Linked DNA regions of Homo sapiens. The protein of the gene in region 1 purifies or fractionates together with the protein of each later gene. This does not show direct contact. Each region holds a gene or a part of one and is shown on either strand. Other genes may lie near its edges. The genes, in order: EGLN2 and RUNX3.

Region 1 (3,679 bases):
CCAAGTTGCATGTATCCCCAGGGCACTTTTGTGATTCCCCTGCTTGTGACTGCACACCGGGACCCCACTCAATTCAAAGACCCAGACTGCTTCAACCCTACCAACTTCCTGGACAAGGGCAAGTTCCAGGGCAATGATGCTTTCATGCCCTTTGCCTCAGGTGCAGGCAGAGGAGGAAGGGGACCAGCCTGGACTGGCTCTGGGGTACCTGGTGCTCACTGTGCACCTGTGTACCCGGCAAAGCAGATGTGCCTGGGCACAGGCCTGGCCCACTCGGGTATCTTCCTATTCCTTACGGCCACCTTACAGAGGTTCTGCCTGCTCCCTGTGGTACGCCCTGGCACCATCAACCTCACCTGCAGTGCACTGGCCTGGGCAGTGTCCCCCCAGACTTCCAGCTCCAGCCAGTGGCCTGCTGAGGTCAGGCTCCACTATGGTGGGCTCACTGGCCCTCAAACCTCCATACCCTCCTCGGTCAATAAAGGCCCTAAATTGCAGATGGAGTCAGATGTGTGCAGCTCTGAGGTAAACTTTTATTTCTTGGCTGACAGGACTTCCACACCCATGCTCCTCCTGGCACCTTTTACTCTGCCCAAGCAGTGGCAGCCCAGTCCAAAAGGTGCCTGCCATGGCCAAAGGGGTTGGGGAGTCACTTCACATTCCAGGCTGGAGGAGTGAGAGGACTTGGGGGTACTCCTCCCACCCCATTGCCAGCAAGAGGCCATGACTCACCTCAACCCCAAGTCCTGCATCCTGGTGGGAAGTGACAATGCCTCCTCCCAGCTCTCCATACCTAATGGGGTCATGACCAGACAGGGTAGGACCCAGGCCCCCAGCTTCAGTTGGTAACGGTGGCCTCCACGGCTGCCCCCTGTCCAGGTGACAACCCCAGCCCCCATGATGGGGCAGCAAAGGTCTCTTCTCCTCCTTGGTCCTCAGCAACAGACAGAGCCCTCCACACCAGGCAGGACAGAGGCAAAGTCAGAAGCAGCAGCGGTGGCAGGGAAGGAGCAGCCAGCACAGGCCCAGGGCTCTCCTGAAGTCATTTAAGCTGTCTGCCATGCGGCTCTGGGACTGGCCACTAGGTGGGCGTAGGCGGCTGTGATACAGGTACTTGGACACCTTTCTGTCCTGATGCTGGGGGTGAGAGGGGACAGGAGACAGTGAGTCATCAGAAGGACAAAGAAGCCAAGGGAAACCTGGGGAGATGGGGAGAGGACCAGGAAGAAATGGGGCTCCTGTTGGGGTACCAGGAGAGTGGGCTAAGGAAGGTGGGCAGAGATGAAGAAAAATGAGTGGTGGGATTTAACAAGAGGCTGATGAGGGGGATGGGGTGGCATCAGGCCCAAGAGGGCCCACAGAATAGGAAGGACTGAAGGGAGGGAAGCAGGTACCTAGCTGATACTTGTCTTTGGCTGCTGCCCGCTCCTTGGCATCAAAATACCAGACAGTGATGGCGTACCTGGAGACCAGGGTGGTTGGACATTAGTTTTCTGCAATTCCAGCTACCATATCCACACACACTAGGCGGCCATCCTTTTGAGCCACCCGGTTCTGCTCCCACCTAGGCCCCCTCTCAATACTTCGTCGCTCCCTAGTCACTCTGAGGCTCTGACAGGACATTGTCACAGGGGGAGCACCTGGGTGCGTCTCCAGAAGTACAGGTCATACCTGGTGGCATAGGCTGGCTTCACCTCGTGGGGGTTCCGCCGGTCAGACCAGAAAATGAGCAACCGGTCAAAGAGTGGCTCGATGTTGGCTACCACGGGCCGGCCCTCAGGGAAGATCTGCAGCAGGCCGCCATGCACCTGGGGGCAGGCCAAAGGATGAGGCTAGCTGGTACGGCCAGGAGCCGCTGCCTCCCACGGTGCCCCGGGAGCCCACTAGGAGGCGCAGCGTCTGCCTGCATCACTCCCTCCCACCCCTCGGGCTCTCAAAGTGAATGACAACCCAGAGACTGCATCACCATGGAGATGGGCAGGAAGCTACTAAAGACAGGAAAAGGGGGAAAGTGTTCATTACAAGGCCGGGTGGGGCTGGGCAGACAGCACCATTCCCGGAAAGAGGGGAGTTCCCACCACACAGTCCGCTAGAGAGGAGGAGGTGCCATTTCCCAGGAAGAGCCGGCAGATCGCACTGCCCGCTGTGTGTTGAGAAGAGAAACAGGAGAATGCCAGAATCTGGGCTGAGAGTGGAAAATGGAGTGGACGCACGCCACCCCCGCCCCAGCCCTAGCCCCAGCGCCACCCTCACCCTCACCCTCACCCCTACCTTAACGTCCCAGTTCTGATTCAGGTAATAGATACAGGTGATGCAGCGCCCATCGCCGTGGGGATTGTCAACGTGCCTTACGTACCCGAGCCCGTTGCCTGGGTAACACGCCACCATGGCCTGGCAGGGATGGAGGGAGGTAGGTTTACTGGGGCTAGGCAGGCACATCTTAGAGAAGCAGCCATGAATTACCTATTTTCCCACCCCTCCTTGCCCCATCTTCCCCATGACTCCTTGGGTCAAGGGTTCCAAGCTCCTGCCCCAAAAGACTTTCTTTTTCAGCCAAAATCCCATCCCCAAGTCTATCAGAAACCTCAGCTCCTGGGCCTCAAGAGCCCACTCCCTCCCAACACACATACCTGGGGCCTGGCACCCAGCTAGGGCTCAATTAGTAACAGAGTTTGATTTGTTTCAAGATACCCCAAACCCCACCTCAGCCATTTCAGTAGAATAATACCAATTTAAACATTTTCAGGTGTGCAAGGAGGTGGCCTCACAGCCCTAGACCAGGAATTCTTACCCTTGGCTGTGGAGTGGAGCCCCCTGGGGAGCTCTGAGGTTCTGAAGTACCTGGCCTAAGGAAGGGCCTGAAATTGGTAAAGCTTCCCAGGTAATTCTACCATGCAGCAATGTTAAGAACTGCTGCCCTGGACTACAAAGAATCCCCACTAAATTATCTGTCCCATAGACCTCCGAACAGGAGCCAAAAGCTACAGTCTGAATAGAAAGACCTAATTCCAACTCCAAGGATAATTTGCTGGGTAACCCTAGCCAGTTCCAACACCTGAATGGGCCTCAACTGCCTGATGTGTACAGCAGGGGTAATAAACACTGCTGTTTACAGCGGTAGCAATTAATCTCTCTGAGAACATAACTTGGGAGGTTCTGGAGCCCCAACTCCTGGAGATCTAACAGGACTCATTGCAGGGCTTGGTTTCTCTGTCTACAGGGTTCTTTCCTCTGCCTGACAGTTGCCACTCCCCTGACCCAGCCCTACAATGCTGTGGCCAGGGCCCCGGGATGTTTGTCATCAGGGAGCTGGCAGAAAGGTGGCTGAGAGGTAAAGGAAATGGCCCAGCCACTTCTGCAGACACAATTCCCTGGTTCAAGTCTCAGTGCTGCCACATGAGCTGTGGCATCAGGCAGGTGACTTCCTGGTCTCAGGTTCCTCATCCATGGATCCAATGGAGCTCACAGCTATTTCACAGGTTGTTGTGGAACAAGTGAACAAGATAACAAGTGTCTGGGAAGACAGCCAGCACAGTGCCTGCCACATGGAGAACTGGAGCACAGGCTGAAATGCCATTTAAAAATTTTAAAAGGTCCCTGTCCCACCCTCTGCCCAAAGTCACTGCAGTGGCAAGATGAGGTAGCACACAAAAAGGGGAGGACTGGCACAAGGACCCTT
Region 2 (3,807 bases), on another chromosome or scaffold:
CCCTTGGAGGACTGTGCACTCCAGGGTTCGGCTGATCAACCCTAACACGGTCACGGCCATTCTACCTCACGTGACTTGGTGGGAGGCTGCCAGTCAGGCAGGGTGGCCAGGCCCTCTTTTACAAGTAAGAGAACTGCAACTGCGGAGAGGCGAGGAAGCTTGTTGGAGGCCACACGCCGAACAAGGGGTGGGATTTCCTGGACCTGGGACCCTTTAGAAAAGATGGAGGCTAGGCATGGTGGCTACGCCTGTAATCCCAGCGCTTTGGGAAGCCGAGGCGGGCGGATCACCTGAGTGAGGTCAGGAGTTTGAAACCAGCCTGACCAATATGGTGAAACCCCGTCTCTACTAAAAGTACAAAAATTAGCCGGGCGTGGTGGCGGGCGCCTATGATCCCAACTACTTGGGAGGCTGAGGCAGGAGAATCGCTTGAACCCGGGAGGCGGAGGTTGCAGTGAGCCAAGATCACACCACTGCACTCCAGCCTAGGTGACAGAGCAAGATTCCATCTCAAAAAAAAAAAAAAAAAAAAATGTGGGAGGGGGTAAGGGGGAGGAGAAGGTTTGCCTAAGGCCTTGGGTCTAGAATGACATGTGCGTTTTCTAGTTTGGCAGAGGGAGAAGAGGCAAGATGTAGGTGGGAGGTAAAACAGAACTCACTGCGCTTCTTGGGGCCTGAACAAGTGATTGCTGGGGACTCGAAAAGTGGGAAAAGCCTGTCGACCACTGTAGGGCATGAGGGGACAGAGCCCGAGGCCTCGCATGGGCCTGATTTCTGATTTTCAGAATGGGAACGCAATGGATTCTGGTACTTGTAGGCCCCCAAGCTCCCTACGCATCCCTGTTGGAAGCTCAAACAGGTATCTGGGAGCCTCAGAAAGAAAGCAGGGGGCCTGGGAGCCACAGGGGCTCAGCCAGTCACCAAGAACCAGGGAGCCCCACCTTCTCCTCCAATGAGGCCCCAGACCAGGAATCCATGGGACACTTGGTGGCAGGAATAAGACCATTTGGTCTCTGGCCAGGCCCCCACTGCTGCCTCCCAGGGCCCTTGGCAACAAAGGGGAAAACATGGGCTGGGGGCGAGTTTAGCTGGAGCTGGGGCTGCAAACTCAGATGCCCATGGGGATGGGGCAAGTCACGTGAACGAGGCAAGTGGGATGGGTGGGGCCTGGAGCGGATGGGGAGGAGATGCCTTGTGGAAAGCACCTGACTGCTACCCTGAGGAGGGCAGGCCCAGTACGGCCAGAGCTTCCAATTCCAGACCGAGTCCTCAGCCCTAACAGGCCTTGGAGGAAATGTTGTCCTTGCTCCTGAGGCCACTGGAAATGGCAGGGAGATGTGGATGAGCTGGGGGACAAGTGAGCAGAAGAATCTTAACAGGCATGAAGCCTGCCGGGTGGACGTGGGGACCACAGACTGATCCGACAACAGCCTGAGTGCAAAGGATCTGGGTGTTTTAGTCAGCCACAAGCTTGAAGGGAGCCAATAGGGCTGGTGCAAAACCTCAGGCCTTGTTACTTTCGTCACAGGAGAATAAAGTCCCCTGTTTCTGAGTCACACCATGTACAAAGAGTGTTTACAGTTACTCCTGCGGCCTGGCGGAAGAGGGCGGGGTTGACAGCCAGCCTGGGTTCGAGGACGGGTCCTGTCACTTGCAGTCTGGTGGCCTCACTCAAGTCACACTCCTTTCCCCCACCCCGAGCTGCGGTGTCCCCATCACACTGTCTTTGTGGGTTGAGGTGCTGGCCTAAGGTGTGGACACTTTCCAGTCACGTGGGTCACCACCATCATGACCATCGCTTTTATCTCTGCTCATGCCCAAAGGAAGCAGAACTATCATCCCCATGCTGGAGACCGGGGTGTGGAGGCCAGGATGCTGAAGTCGTGTGAGGAACACAGAGCCTGAGCAGCAAGGCAGGATTCACACCCGGATCCCCCGACTCCAAGCCCAGGGCTCTTTTCCTGACACTTTCCCTTTTGTTCCCATTGTTTAGACGGGGCCACCGAGGCTTCACCATGAGACCGACGCTGAGCGCCTGTTCCGGGACCCAGGCTGTGGGTCAGGTAATCTGACCCCGGAACCCACGCTCCCACCACATGCTCCCTTGCCCTCCGTAGGGCAGACTTCCCGGAGGAGGGGAGTCCAACAGCACTTCGGAAATAGCTTCCTTGTTACTGTGGAACGCTGGAGCCACTGCCAGGGAGGGGAGAGGGGAGCCAAGGCGGCCCCACGTGGCCAGGGCGCCAGAGAGTCTCAGAGCCACAGGGCCAGGGCTCTCACACTGGGAATAGGACAGAAGTTCCAGTGCCTGAGGAAAGAAGATGGTCTTCAGAAAAAGCCTCTTTCATTCGGTTACCCAGAGCAAGAGCTGCGTGGGGAGCTCTGGCTCTAACCCACTCCGTCACCTTGGGCCCAGTCCTGCTACGCCTCAGTTTCCCCTCTGCACAGTCTGCTCACTGAGGCCCCTTCCTTTTGAAAGTCCCTGATTTAAGGTAGCAAAGATCAGCCGCTGGTCAGAGGGGCCCCAGAAAGAAAAGAAGGCAGGGCTGCTGGCCCCAGGGCCCACCCACTACCACTTCTTCCTGCTGCTGCTGTTCCCAGTATTTCTTGAATATTCTCTGCCCCCCACTCTTCAGAGCCTCAGCTCAGGACAGCCTCTGCCAGCAATGCTTTCTGTCCTGTGAAGCCCAGTCCAGGAGCCCCTCCTCCAGGAAGCCCCCCTTCTCCCACAGTAGATCCCCATCACACCTCTGCAGGCTAGGGCTGTCCTTTAAAGCAGTCGCCAGCAGGAGTGGAAATCATCAAAACGGCAGCAGATGCTTGCTGGGTGCTTCCTCCACGGCAGCGTCTAAGCAGCTGACAAGCACCATCTTGTTTCGCCTGGCAGCATCCCCTTGAGTAATGTCTGCCACCATCCTATCATATGGGTGAAAAAACTGAGGCTCTGGACAGCCAGTGAGCTCAAGGTCAAGCAGAAGACACACAGCCACCTGCTCTCCCTAGAGCCTGTGAAAACACATCTATTGTGGCGGAAGAGGGCGGGGTTCACAGCCAGCCTGGGTTCGATACATCAATAGATGTATCGGGACTCCACAATAGATGTTAGGGCCCCGTCCAGCCCCAGGCCCAGAGCTGCTATCTGCAGGCCCAGGAGGATAGGACTTGGGAGAGGAAGATGAGAAGGTCTCAGTGGACTCCACCAGGGGCCCTTCCCTGCTCTGAAGCTCAGGGTTGAGAGTGCAATTTCCAATCATACCCTGCTCTAGACCACCAAGTCACTCTCTGCCTCTGGGCCACAGTTTCCACATCTGTAAAGTGGTTATCATACTGTCTAACCCCTGAGGGTGCCGATGAGCTGGAGGACAGGCCACATGCTTTTAAAAGCAGAGGACTGAGATGGCTGGGGAAAGCCCCGCGTTGGCCCTCAGGGCCTGTCCTGGCTGCTGTCAGCCTCCAGCTGCTGGGCTCAGATCAGACAGCTCCTCCAGCATGGCCTGGATTAGTGTCTATGACCCTCACTTATGGGAGGGCAGATCCCAGCCTGCCCCTCCCAAGGGCCCAGTGGCCCCAAGCTCATACCAGGCAGCTCTCACCCACCAGTGGTCACTGTCTTGGGCAAGCCACTCTTGCCTTCTGGGCCTCAGCTGTCTTATCTGCAAAATGGGGATCACACCTCTAACCCCCGAGGGTCAGGAAAGGTTTCAAGAATTACACAGCCCACCAGGCCTTGGCCTTTGAGGAAGGTGTTCTGGGTTCCCATTCTGACTTGGCCATCTGCTCCTAGGCAAACAGCTCCTCTCTGATGCG

Evidence for each region.
Region 2: the proteins of EGLN2 (region 1) and RUNX3 purify together in Homo sapiens (affinity purification with western blotting, with the first as the bait; one study listed by BioGRID). This does not show direct contact.

The regions. Positions count from the first base shown.
Region 1 is NC_000019.10:40,805,267-40,808,945, reverse strand, and holds the end of EGLN2 (prolyl hydroxylase EGLN2), read right to left. Parts: intron 2,392-3,679; coding exon 2,272-2,391; intron 1,809-2,271; coding exon 1,672-1,808; intron 1,463-1,671; coding exon 1,395-1,462; intron 1,138-1,394; coding exon 1,082-1,137; 3' UTR 512-1,081; downstream 1-511. UniProt on the Homo sapiens protein: Prolyl hydroxylase that mediates hydroxylation of proline residues in target proteins, such as ATF4, IKBKB, CEP192 and HIF1A. Target proteins are preferentially recognized via a LXXLAP motif.
Region 2 is NC_000001.11:24,909,777-24,913,583, forward strand, and holds part of RUNX3 (runt-related transcription factor 3), read right to left. Parts: intron 1-3,807. UniProt on the Homo sapiens protein: Forms the heterodimeric complex core-binding factor (CBF) with CBFB.